4 linked regions of the Homo sapiens genome follow. The protein of the gene in region 1 interacts with the protein of each later gene in a biochemical or structural test. Each region holds a gene or a part of one and is shown in the gene's direction. Other genes may lie near its edges.

Evidence for each region. Proteins that work in one complex are often made in the same cells at the same time.
Region 2: the proteins of ITGB1 (region 1) and ANGPTL4 interact in a biophysical measurement, tested with the Homo sapiens proteins (one study listed by IntAct).
Region 3: the proteins of ITGB1 (region 1) and MAP4K4 form a complex in vitro, tested with the Homo sapiens proteins (one study listed by BioGRID).
Region 4: the proteins of ITGB1 (region 1) and GULP1 form a complex in vitro, tested with the Homo sapiens proteins (one study listed by IntAct).

The regions. Positions count from the first base shown.
Region 1 is NC_000010.11:32,899,818-32,903,024, reverse strand, and holds the end of ITGB1 (integrin beta-1 isoform 1A precursor), read left to right. Parts: intron 1-1,389; coding exon 1,390-1,455; 3' UTR 1,456-2,707; downstream 2,708-3,207.
Region 2 is NC_000019.10:8,370,655-8,374,154, forward strand, and holds part of ANGPTL4 (angiopoietin-related protein 4 isoform a precursor), read left to right. Parts: intron 1-401; coding exon 402-497; intron 498-586; coding exon 587-868; intron 869-2,996; coding exon of another isoform or gene 2,997-3,050; coding exon 3,051-3,232; 3' UTR 3,233-3,500. UniProt on the Homo sapiens protein: Mediates inactivation of the lipoprotein lipase LPL, and thereby plays a role in the regulation of triglyceride clearance from the blood serum and in lipid metabolism. May also play a role in regulating glucose homeostasis and insulin sensitivity.
Region 3 is NC_000002.12:101,700,707-101,704,206, forward strand, and holds part of MAP4K4 (mitogen-activated protein kinase kinase kinase kinase 4), read left to right. Parts: intron 1-3,500.
Region 4 is NC_000002.12:188,581,874-188,585,373, forward strand, and holds part of GULP1 (PTB domain-containing engulfment adapter protein 1), read left to right. Parts: intron 1-467; coding exon of another isoform or gene 468-692; intron 693-2,391; coding exon 2,392-2,530; intron 2,531-3,500. UniProt on the Homo sapiens protein: May function as an adapter protein. Required for efficient phagocytosis of apoptotic cells. Modulates cellular glycosphingolipid and cholesterol transport. May play a role in the internalization and endosomal trafficking of various LRP1 ligands, such as PSAP.

The DNA.
Region 1 (3,207 bases):
ATGTCCCATTCTTTTCCCTACACCTTGACTTTGCATAGATTGCTATTTACCAACCAATAATTTTTCTAGTCAATTTCACAATGAAAATCTCCTTAATCTTCTTAAAGTTAATAACTTTTTTCTTATACTATTCCCAGATTATGTTCATAACTCTATTGTAAACTTCATCAGAGTGCCTTATTTTCATGTCTCTCACCCACCAAACTATACCTTCCTTGAGGGCAGAAATTGTGCCACCAAAAGGCAGATCCAAATACAGTCTGCAATGAAGTGTGAATAAAATTTAAAAACAAAAATTACTTTTAGATCAAAAAATGTTTTAGATGCTTTCTATAAATATTTTTTTAAAAATCACCTGCAGTTGGTTCTATAGTGAGATATAAAACTGAACAACATTCCAAAATCTTAATTTTTTCTTAAAAAAAATTTCCCTGGTAGTTAACAAGTATTTTTTATTTGTACTCACTGTAATTTTCTCTGATTAAGTGTTATTTGGTCACACTTCTCACTTGGCTTTCAAGCCTGCTTTCAATTTATAAGAACAGGAGAAAAAAGAATGCTATAGCAAGTATTTAAATGTAGCAGTTATAGTATAAGAGAATTTTTAAGGAAAAGGGTGATACAGTGATATGTTTTTTTCTGCTTAAAACATCACTGTCAGTATATTTTTGGATCTTGAAAGATCTCTTGTGTTTATGGCTTGGGGCCTGCTTGCTAGGCTTGACTTCAGTACTGTTTACTAAATTATAGCACTGCAATAAGACATTTCACCAATATGATATTGAAGCATAACAAGTTATTTCATAAGGAATGGTAATTATCTAACATTCTAAGCAAATTTGGCAGTGTGACTTGGTGGGGCGCAGTGCTGTCCCTGACACAATGACAGCCTTACTCTCTAAATTAGTAACTTCCGTAGGAGACCCCAGAAGCACACCTCCCTCCCAGCAGTGAAAGCCGAGGATTCCCGTTTTGATTAGCAGGCGCCTTCTGTTCACGATAAAGGGATAAGAATCAGGCAGTGATGGCAGCGGAGTTCATGCTTCATTAAGGCAGGCATTGCAAACTAGTTCAGAGGAGAGAATCCACGATGACAGCACATTCTGTGCCATGGAGAACATTCTTAAATCAAGCCTCCAGTGGAGGAAGGACTCAAGAATGAAATAGCACCAGATAACGGGGCATCATTAGACTTGTAAAGCAAAGCTTCCATTTTCTATTTTTATATAAACCATTATTAATGCCTTTAAAACAACTGTGATATCTGGACAAATAAAATAGAAATGACTTCTTAAGATGATTGCAACTTTTAGTCTTGATTTATAAAAATTATTCTACATAATTTTAGTAGGGTAACTGATAATTTTTCTCACTTTTTTTTTGTTGTAGGGTGAAAATCCTATTTATAAGAGTGCCGTAACAACTGTGGTCAATCCGAAGTATGAGGGAAAATGAGTACTGCCCGTGCAAATCCCACAACACTGAATGCAAAGTAGCAATTTCCATAGTCACAGTTAGGTAGCTTTAGGGCAATATTGCCATGGTTTTACTCATGTGCAGGTTTTGAAAATGTACAATATGTATAATTTTTAAAATGTTTTATTATTTTGAAAATAATGTTGTAATTCATGCCAGGGACTGACAAAAGACTTGAGACAGGATGGTTACTCTTGTCAGCTAAGGTCACATTGTGCCTTTTTGACCTTTTCTTCCTGGACTATTGAAATCAAGCTTATTGGATTAAGTGATATTTCTATAGCGATTGAAAGGGCAATAGTTAAAGTAATGAGCATGATGAGAGTTTCTGTTAATCATGTATTAAAACTGATTTTTAGCTTTACAAATATGTCAGTTTGCAGTTATGCAGAATCCAAAGTAAATGTCCTGCTAGCTAGTTAAGGATTGTTTTAAATCTGTTATTTTGCTATTTGCCTGTTAGACATGACTGATGACATATCTGAAAGACAAGTATGTTGAGAGTTGCTGGTGTAAAATACGTTTGAAATAGTTGATCTACAAAGGCCATGGGAAAAATTCAGAGAGTTAGGAAGGAAAAACCAATAGCTTTAAAACCTGTGTGCCATTTTAAGAGTTACTTAATGTTTGGTAACTTTTATGCCTTCACTTTACAAATTCAAGCCTTAGATAAAAGAACCGAGCAATTTTCTGCTAAAAAGTCCTTGATTTAGCACTATTTACATACAGGCCATACTTTACAAAGTATTTGCTGAATGGGGACCTTTTGAGTTGAATTTATTTTATTATTTTTATTTTGTTTAATGTCTGGTGCTTTCTGTCACCTCTTCTAATCTTTTAATGTATTTGTTTGCAATTTTGGGGTAAGACTTTTTTTATGAGTACTTTTTCTTTGAAGTTTTAGCGGTCAATTTGCCTTTTTAATGAACATGTGAAGTTATACTGTGGCTATGCAACAGCTCTCACCTACGCGAGTCTTACTTTGAGTTAGTGCCATAACAGACCACTGTATGTTTACTTCTCACCATTTGAGTTGCCCATCTTGTTTCACACTAGTCACATTCTTGTTTTAAGTGCCTTTAGTTTTAACAGTTCACTTTTTACAGTGCTATTTACTGAAGTTATTTATTAAATATGCCTAAAATACTTAAATCGGATGTCTTGACTCTGATGTATTTTATCAGGTTGTGTGCATGAAATTTTTATAGATTAAAGAAGTTGAGGAAAAGCATTTCTGGTTGGTGGGTAGTTCACTTATGAAGCTAAAACATAATTCTTTAAAAAAATGTACTAGGGACATAAGGAGAGTGGTATGGTGAAATACAGACTTGAAGACTGTCCTTGGGCTCTCTGAATCATGGTGGATAGATCCTTACTTATCCTGCTACGCTGGGAGAGAGGTTTCATCCCAATATTAAGCAGAATTAACTTTATGAACATCTTAGAGCCATTAGTAGGTGCTGGAAATTGTATCATTTTATTTAAGATATAGATAGGGGATTGTTAACTTTTCTGATAAGAAAAATTAGGAAAAATTTTACTTTTATTTGGCTTTGGTTTCTGTTTGAAAGGATATATCCATAAGTACTACTTGTGTAAAGCTTATTAGAAGAAATATATGCTGCTTTCTTAAGCATACAACAAATGTCAGAAATATTTGGAGGAGAAAAAGTTTCAGCCTTACTAGCCTTTCACATTTATACAATCCCTTCACATCCTGTTAATCTTCTT
Region 2 (3,500 bases), on another chromosome or scaffold:
GCGGCACTGCGATCCAGCCTGGGCAACAGAGTGAGACTCCATCTCTAAAAAAAAAAAAAAAAAAAAAGAAAGCTTTTTTTTCCACTGAGAAGTCCTTTCCATTACAAGAGGTTACAACACGGGGTTTTACCCAGTTCAGCTGGCCCAGAGAGGCTTTGCAGATTTCCACTGCCTACTCCCTCCCACACTCAGTCCCTGCTGGGTTCTTGGGACAAAGATCTTCCCAAGGCCAGCCCATAATATTCCTCCCTCTGACCCACCCTCCTCGAGTCCTCCAGGGATGAGTGAGGGAGCTGCTGTCTTCCTGGGTTTGGAGGGGGTTTGGTGCTTGGCAGCCAGATGAGGGAGTGGGGTCGTCTGTGAAGAGGGACTTCCTGGTGACCTTGTACCTTTCTGGGCAGATGGAGGCTGGACAGTAATTCAGAGGCGCCACGATGGCTCAGTGGACTTCAACCGGCCCTGGGAAGCCTACAAGGCGGGGTTTGGGGATCCCCACGGTAGGTGTTTCTAGTGGGGACAGAGGCAGGGGAGGAAGAGGGACCCTCAGAAGTGGCCCTGCCTCATGGAGTGGCCTCTCCCACTCCAGGCGAGTTCTGGCTGGGTCTGGAGAAGGTGCATAGCATCACGGGGGACCGCAACAGCCGCCTGGCCGTGCAGCTGCGGGACTGGGATGGCAACGCCGAGTTGCTGCAGTTCTCCGTGCACCTGGGTGGCGAGGACACGGCCTATAGCCTGCAGCTCACTGCACCCGTGGCCGGCCAGCTGGGCGCCACCACCGTCCCACCCAGCGGCCTCTCCGTACCCTTCTCCACTTGGGACCAGGATCACGACCTCCGCAGGGACAAGAACTGCGCCAAGAGCCTCTCTGGTGAGCAGGCCCTGCCATGCCACACCCAGCCAGCAGCTTCCCTCCTTATCTTTCTGCTGCTCTGTCCTGCCTTCAACCCCACATTGCATCTGTTTCCTGCCCCCACCTCTTCCTTACATGCCGTGTGTGTGATTGGGCCACTAACTTAGCCTATCTGGCCTCAGTTTTCCCATCCTGAAAAGGGTCTTGACCGTCTTTACTTTTATTTACTTATGTGTTTGTTTATTTATTTATTTATGTATTTATTTTTTGAGACGGAGTCTCACTTTGTCACCCAGGCTGGAGTGCTTTGTGGCACGATCTTGGCTCACTGCAAGCTCCACCTCCTGAGTTCACACCATTCTCCTGCCTCAGCCTCCCGAGTAGCTGGGACTATAGGTGCCCACCACCACGCCTGGCTAATTTTTTTGTATTTTTAGTAGAGATGGGGTTTCACCGTGTTAGCCAGGATGGTCTCGATCTCCTGACCTCGTGATCTGCCTGCCTCAGCCTCCCAAAGTGCTGGGATTACAGGCGTGAGCCACCGCGCCCGGCCTACTTATTTATTTTTTGAGACAGAGTCCCGCTGTGTCTCCCAGGCTGGAGTGCAAGTGACGTGATCTTGGCTCACTGCAGCCTCCGCCTCCTGGGTTCAAGTGATTCTCCTGCCTCAGCCTCCTGAGTAGCTGGGATTACAGGTTCCCGCCACCATGCACAGATAATTGTTTTGTATTTTTAGTAGAGACGGGGTTTCACCATGTTGGCCAGGGTGGTCTTGAACTCCTGACCTCAAGTGATCTGCCCACCTCGGCCTCCCAAAGTGTTGGGATTACAGGCGTGAGCCACAATACCCGGCCACAAACATCTTTATAATGGTGCTCCACAGGATTCTTTTTTTTTTTTTTTTTTTGAAACAGGGTCTCACTCTGTTGCCTAAGCTGGAGTGCAGTGGTGCGATCTCGGCTCACTGCAACCTCCACCTCCCGGGTTCAAGCAATTCTCAAAAAAAAAAAAAAATTAGGCACGGTGGCTCACACTTGCAATCCCAGCACTTTGGGAGGCTGAAGCGAGTGGATCACTTGAGCCCAGGAGACCAATCTGAGCAACAGGGCGAAATCCTGTCTCAATTAAAAATACAAAAAACTAGCTGGGCATGGTGGTGCCTGCCTGTGTTCCCATCTACTTGGGAGGCTGAGTTGGGAGGATCTCTTGAGCCTAGGAGATAAGGCTGCAGTGAGCTGAGACTGCGCCACTGCACTCAAGCCTGGGTGACAGAGTGAGACCCCTGCCTCAAAAGAAAAAGAAAAAATGCAGGCATGGTGGCTCACACCTGTGGTCCCAGCTACTTGGGAGGCCCAGGTACAAGAATCACTTGAGCCCGTAAGGTTGACGCTGCATTGAGCCATCACCACACCACTGCACTCCAGCCTGGGCAATGGAGCCAGGCCCTGTCTCAAAAAAAATTGTTTTTAAACTTAAAAATAAGGCCGGGTGTGGGGGCTCACACCTGTAATCCCAGCACTTTGGGAGGCCGAGGTGGGTGGATCACCTGAGGTCAGGAGTTCAAAACTAGCCTGGCCAACATGGTGAAACCCTGTCTCTACTAAAAATACAAAAATTAGGCCAGGCGCAGTGGGTCATACCTGTAATCCCAGCACTTTGGGAGGCTGAGGAGGGTGGATCACATGAGGTAAGGAGTTTGAGACCAACCTGGCCAACATGGTGAAACCCCCTCACTACTAAAAATACAAAAACTAGCCAGGCGTGGTGGCGGGTGCCTGTAATCCCGGCTACTCAGGAGGCTGAGGCATGAGAATCCCTTGAACCTGGGAGGCAGAGGTGCAGTGAGCCGAGATTGTGCCACTGCACTCCAGCCTGGGAGATAGAGTGAGACTCAGTCTCAAAAAAAAAGACCAAAAATTAGCCAGGTGTGGTGGCAGGCGCCTGTAATCCCAGCTACTCGGGAGGCTGAGGGAGGAGAATCACTTAAACCTGAGAGACGGAGGTTGCAGTGAGCTGAGATCGCACCACTGCACTCCAGCCTGGGTGACAGAGTAAGACTCAATCTCAAAAAAAAAAAAGTCAAGTCCAAAGCCCAGCCTGGTCCCCAACCTGCCTCATCCTCAACCCTATCCCTATCTCCTTTCAGCCCCATCGGTGGCTCAAAGACCTGACCATGTTCCCTCTCCCCTGACCCCGGCAGGAGGCTGGTGGTTTGGCACCTGCAGCCATTCCAACCTCAACGGCCAGTACTTCCGCTCCATCCCACAGCAGCGGCAGAAGCTTAAGAAGGGAATCTTCTGGAAGACCTGGCGGGGCCGCTACTACCCGCTGCAGGCCACCACCATGTTGATCCAGCCCATGGCAGCAGAGGCAGCCTCCTAGCGTCCTGGCTGGGCCTGGTCCCAGGCCCACGAAAGACGGTGACTCTTGGCTCTGCCCGAGGATGTGGCCGTTCCCTGCCTGGGCAGGGGCTCCAAGGAGGGGCCATCTGGAAACTTGTGGACAGAGAAGAAGACCACGACTGGAGAAGCCCCCTTTCTGAGTGCAGGGGGGCTGCATGCGTTGCCTCCTGAGATCGAGGCTGCAGGATATGCTCAGACTCTAGAGGCGTGGACCAAGGGGCATGGAGCTTCACTCCTTGCTGGCCAGG
Region 3 (3,500 bases), on another chromosome or scaffold:
GTTATCACACTTAGAAAAATGTCATATATTCACTATTAACGTTTTCTTGATTGTCTCATACATCAGTAAAATGTGTTTTTTTTTTTTTTTACTATAACAAGTTCTTTAATGTTTACAAGCGGGTACTGGGAACTTCAATCTTAGAAGTGGTGAAAATAGCAGAACATCTCTTTTTTTCCTCTTTTTAACTATTTAATTTCTAGAACCATTTACAATTATGTGTAGGAGTTAATTTAGGATTTTTGTTGGTATGATTTGCTTGTGGTAGATTTGGGATTACATTATTAACACTTTAGAGTTTGTTTATTGCTGCTAAACATCCTTTAGGATGAATAGCATTAAAGTTTGAGAAATACTTGTTGCTGAATTGTTATTTATAAAAAGGTCTTTATTTTTAAACATAATTTCAGGTAAAAAAAATCTGTAAGCTGAACAACTTGTCCTAATTTATTTTAGTGTCATATTTTCTATTTTTCATTAGCGCAGATGTTGCTTATTTTGAGGCAACTATATTTACATGAAGTGAGTGAGTTGAAAAGAGGGAGTTTTCTGAGATTTGATATGTCGTATGAAATAGCTTCTTTTGGGGCGAACGACTCTCCTGCAAAACTGTGCTAATGGTAGACCCCTCATTTATGGAAGAAAGGGAGGGGGAGGGGTGTGTGTGGCAGTAGGGCTAAGAGTGACCTTTGGGAATGGTAGAAAGGTTAGGGAGTAGTGGGAATTTCAAGGAGATGTTATTTGGACTTGAGGAGAGACATCTTCTTTAAGCATTGAGGAGCCACTGAAAGGTTTTGTTGGAATTGGGGATCCCTGAGAGTAGGGGACTTGATCCAGTTTTTTGGGGATAACTTCTAATTTTCTGTGTCTCTGACAACAGTGGTAAATGGTCTGGTATAGTTGAACAGTATGTAACTTCATCTTAAAAGAAGGAGGTGAAAAACGGGGTGTATTCTGTTTAGAGAAATTTATTTTCACCCTTAGGTTTTTGAGAGACGGATACTCATAAACTTAAAATTGTAAATTTCTCTTCACAAGGTTACATTCAGAGTACCATATATTTATAAGAGAAGTGTCTGGTATGATCAGTGAGGAGAATGATAGTGTGAAAAATTAAAACCAGAAATAAATCAAGTTTGTTTCCATGTTATTTTGGATTTTATTGTTATTTTGTTTTGAGACGGAGGTTTGCTCTGTTGCCCAGGCTGGAGTGCAGTGGCACCATCTCTACTCACTGTAACCTCCGTCTCCCGGGTTCAAGTGATTCTCCTGCCTCAGCCTCCTGAGTAGTTGGGATTACAAGTGCGTGCCATCACGTCCAGCTAATTTTTGTATATAGAGATGGGTTTTCACCATGTTGGCTAGGCTGGTCTTGAACTCCTGGCCTCAAGTGATCTGCACGCCTTGGCCTCCCAAAATGCTGGGATTGTATACAGGCATGAGCCACTGCACCCGGCCTTATTGTTATTTTAAATATTTATTTGACCATTTTTGTGTTCTTGGGGTAACTACTGTTATTTTGCATTTTGTGAGCATGTGATGGCTGGTGTTCCAAATGTCTTGAATAAAAGATTGTCAACCGGACGCGGTGGCTTACGCTTGTAAATCCCAGCACTTTGAGAGGCGCAGGTGGGCGGATCACTTGAGGTCAGGAGTTCGAGACCAGCCTGGCCAACATGGTGAAACCCCGTTTCTACTAAAAATACCGAAAAATTAGCCGGGTGTAGTGGGGGGTGCCTGTAATCCCGGCTACTCAGGAGGCTGAGACAGGAGAGTCACTTGAACCTGGGAAGTGAAAGTTGCAGTGAGCCGAGATTGTGCCATTGCACTCCAGCCTGGGCAACAAGAGTGAAACTCTGTCTCAAAAAAAAGAAAAGAAAAGAAGATTGCCAGCCTGAGGACAATTCTGAGTCTTGGAAGGACTGACAGAGGGGAAATCCGGTAACAGTAACGTGGAAGTCAGGGAGTTTAGAATCCAGCAGGTAAAATGTCTGAAATCAAGGTTCACTCAAAGGAGGGACCATAGATTTTGTGGAAGACTGACCCATTCTGATCTTGTCATTGGAGGAAGGGTACAATGTGGACCTTGGAGATTGAGGACAAGGGTACCCTAGGCCCAAAGACCTTGATGGTAAGGGGAGCTAACGCTAAGAGTTTGCTCATTCGATGCCCATTTGACACTGTGCTCATGTTAGACCCCTCATTTATTGAAGAAAGGGAGGGGAGAGGTGAGGTGTTTGTGTGTGGCAGTAGGGCTAAGAGTGACCTTTGGGAATGGTAGAAAGGTTAGGGAGTAGTGGGAATTTCAAGGAGGTATTATTTGGACTTGAGGAGAGACATCTTCTTTAAGCATTGAGGAGTCACTGAAAGATTTTGTTGGAATTGGGGATCCCTTAGAGTAGGGGACTTGATCCAGATGTGTGTTGGGAAGGAGCTGGTAAAATGGTTGGCCTTGGGCAGTGGTCCAGTGACAGGAGGTGAAGGCCGAGGCGGGATAGTGGCAGTGGTGGTAGAGAGGAGGAGAGGTTGGGGTGGATACTTGGGCATTACTCTTTGCTAGGTTTAACATGTTGAATTCACTCGTTCTCTGCAGGCTTTGGTATGTCCCTTTAAGTGGGTACACGGTTTGCCCACAGTATTAGGAGGAGCTTTGGGATTCCCAGCACTTTGGGAGGCTGAGACGGGCGGATCACCTGAGGTCAGGAGTTGGAGACCAGCCTAGCCAACATGGCAAAACCCCATCTCTACTAAAAATATAAAAAGTAGCCAGGCGTGGTGGTGTACGCCTGTAATCCCAGCCACTTGGGAGGCTGAGGTGGGAGAATCGCTTGAACCTAGGAGGTGGAGGTTGCAGAGAACTGAGATCATGGCACTGCACTCCAGCCTGGGCAACAGAATGAGACTCTGTCTCAAAAAAAAAAAAAAAAAAAAAGGCGGGGGTGGGGTGGTTAAAGTGCTAAAATTGCTTTCGATTGCTCAGTGGTAAAGTGCCATATAGATTGTCTGGCTTTTAAAAATCATTAGGGGCCGGGCACGGTGGCTCACACCTGTAATCCCAGCATTTTGGGAGGCCGAGGCGGGTGGATAACAAAGTCAGGAGTTCAAGACCAGCCTGTCAACATGGTGAAACCCCATCTCTACTAAAAATAGAAAAATTAGCCGGGCGTGGTGGCGCGTGCCTCTAGTCCCAGCTACCCAGGAGGCTGAGGCAGAAGAATTGCTTGAACTTCCCCAGGAGGTGGAGGTTGAAGTGAGCCGAGATAGCACCACTGCACTCTAGCCTGGGTGACAGAGCCAGACTCCTCCAAAAAGAAAAAATAAAATAAAAAAATTTGCATTTTGGAGCAAGTACTTAAACTTTTGTGAGGGATTCTCTAAGTGTTATCTTTTAAGTGTAGCATCTCTCGTTCTTAATTGGAGGTAAAGACATCCACTGGGGCAAAATGAATTTTGTAGAACCAGATGTTTTCATTAGGAGGAGATTGTGTCAGCTGATCTGC
Region 4 (3,500 bases), on another chromosome or scaffold:
TTTGAGGATTAAATATAAAATGTATGTTGTAATCCCTTTTGAAAATTCTACACAACCATAACTTTATGTACAAGAGTTTACTCCTAGTTCTGTAACTGTTCTCTCATTACTATCCTTCCTTTTTCCATTTCATTACAGAAGCCCTCTCCAAAATAAATCTTCAGGCTTTCTTCATGTTTCTCTCCATTACCTTCCTCTTAGGTCCCGATGAATGCAATATTCTATTTAAAATACCAAAAAATGTAATATTTCAGTAAAAAAAAGATCAAATTAAGCAATCCAGAATCTAAGGACTATCACATAGGAAAATCAACTCTAACTCTATGTTTTAATTTTAGAAAAGTTACTGTGAAATGATCTTATCATCTTAACAAAACACCATTTTACAAATAAATTTCAAGTATACTTTCTCCTTTCCTCCATGCCTGCCCTCTTAGGATATTTCTTTTTCTGTCATTCCTTTACAGCTGCTGCACAATATGTCTGATCATGAACAACATGTGTTTCAGAGATGCTCATCCTCTTTCTGGCGTAGTAATGGTGATTCATCTCCCTGTCTCAATATTTCTTCCATCTCTGTCACTCCTATCAACTCGCCTGATTCCAGACTATCACTGGGACTGTTAATACCACCACCTTCTAAATGTGGCTTTCCCAAGCCAGTCAGTGAGAGCAGCATCCCAAGACCTCATGTAATTTGCTAAGCAGATAATTCTTTTTTATTATCCCACTTATTTTGCTTAAATTCTGCCAAAATGTGCTATTTGTAAAGTTATCAAAAATTTAGATGTATCTTGAGTCAATGTGATGTGATCTGGAGCCTTTGTGTGCCATTGTTGTTTTCTTTGATTACCTGATACCAGAAAGTTTCAAGTAGAGGGTGGTGACAGTGTAGAAATTTACATACAGATACTTCAAAGGATCTATCAGATGTTGCAGTTGGGAAATTAGATCATTGGTAAGAGCAATTTCAGCAGAGTTCAGTGCAAAAAGAACAAATCTAGATTGATAAGAGTTAAAGATAGAATGAAGTAAATCTTAGGACAGAAAGTGTAGTATCTCTTTCAAGGAGCTTAGCCTTGAAGGAAAAAGAAAAACAGAATAGAGGCTGGAAGATTAAAGAGGGACAGAGTAAATAAATTTTTGATTGATTTGTTTTGCTTTTAATGACAGCCAAGATTTTAGAATTTTTGTATCGTGAAAAAGAGTAGAGATATAGAAGTGAGAGGGGATACAGGAATGGGATAATTAGGGGAATGGTATTGCTGAGTAACAGTAAAGGGGTGAGGGGATACAATAAACAAATTGTTAAAGAAAGGGGGATGACAGCAATTTTCCTGCATGAAAAATAATGTACTAGCAATTATTTTAGCTGAATAGCAAACCCATCATTCTCTACACACAATAAGCCTGATTTTTTCATCACCTGCACTACCTGTGAATCAGAAAATTAAACGTATTCTGAGAATTCTAATTTTAATATGAACTACTGGAAGCAATCTCTGTCCAAGTTCTCACAGGAAAAGCAAATTTTTCGCCACTATTCCCCCAAAATGGAAATTCTCTTTTATCCCTGATCAAATCAGATGGTTTTCAAAGGAGATTATACATATATACATATTGTTCCCTGTTTTACAAAGTGATAAATGTCTAATTTTGATATTACTTCTTGGCTACATTTTCATGAGATTTTCATTTATCTTTCCCTATATGTGTTCAGTCCTGGCCCAGACTGTATCAGAAAACTCAATGATTTGGGCAGTACACTGGCGATTATTAATTTAGTTTATAAGATTGCTATTTATTACAGAAAACTTGATGAAATCTTTCAGGAGTAAAATGTACTGCAATGAATATCAGTTGGTTCCCATTGTTGATATAAATACAAACTAAAATATACTCTACTTTTGAGAATGCAAAAAAAATCAATTGCATTTGAATGTTTATATTTAAGAAGGCAGGTCACTTATGTCTAATTATTCCAGTTTAAAATGTAATCTTATGCAGCGTATCTTACTGAAATCATATTTTTACATGAATAGTTTCTAATATATCTAATTCTCTGTTACAAGTAGCAGTCATTTCTATATATCCCAAAAATTCACTGTATCTTTTATATTCATCTGGAATAATATTGTCACCGTTTTTGCCATCATCTTTGAGAGCATTTTTACAGAAATTTTCTATTGCTTTCTTCTAAATGAGCATTTATCATAATTAGTGGAACCATATGAAATTGCGAATACTTAACTATTTTTGGTCTACAAAATGGCAAATTCTTATGATGCAACTGAAATTGTTGTTTACATATATTTTATATGCATATGAAATATTTAGCATTACAATGTGTCTATATGAAATATTACCCTAATTCATTTATTTTCATTGCAGGCAGGCAGTATGACACCTAAGTCGCCCTCCACTGACATCTTTGATATGATTCCATTTTCTCCAATATCACACCAGTCTTCGATGCCTACTCGCAATGGCACACAGCCACCTCCAGTACCTAGTAGATCTACTGAGATTAGTAAGCTTTCTCAACAAATCAAAGTTTCTTGTTATAGTTGCATACATTTTAAATATATAATTAAGACTTTGTGGGAAATTACATATCTTAACAACCTTACTTACAATTTTAATTATTAAAGTATTATTTTTATATTTGTATAAATTTCCATTAATTCTATTTTACTTTATAATTCAGACTACACTACTAATGACATCTCTGCTTGCAACTTTTACCTATTGTGTGAACAATTATGTTTTGGTGTATTACTTCATATTTAATTATATATCACTGTTTTGGGTTATATTTTTAATATTTTACTTTAACTTTTAAAAATAACTGGTGGTAATTAAATTGATCATTTTTTACATGTTTAATAGAGCTGGTTAAAATATTTTTGTTATCATAGGGTTTATGGACTTTTTTGTTAAAAAATATATAAATTATATCATGATTTCTTAACCTTTTGTAAGGGTTCTTTCCTATCTAAAATGCTATAAATTCATTGCTTTTCTGTTTTATCTTTTATATATCTGGAAGGAATATTAAAGTCTCTTTTTGATGAATTAGAAAACACCTATAAGCCTGTAAAATAAAAAGCAAGTTAGTTACTTGTAAAATACAATGAGCATACAGGCATTGGGTGAACGTTTCCATTCCAAATTGGAGAAATTGGCAAAGCGAAGGAGCCACAGGCCCCTTGCAAGTTTGAAACCCGGTGGGGCAGTCATTAAATCTTAAAGCTCCAAAATTATCTCATTTTACTCCATGTGTCACATCCAGGGCATGCTAATGCAAGGGATGGACCCCAAGGCCTTGGGCAGCTCCACCTCTGTGGCTCTGCAGGGTACAGCCCCCATAGCTGTTTTCACAGGCTGGCATTGAGTGACAGGCACACAGTGCAAGCTGTTGGTGGATCTACCATTCGGGGGTCTGAAAGACAGTGGCCCTCTTCTCACAGCTCCACTAGGCAGTGCCCCAGTGGGGACTC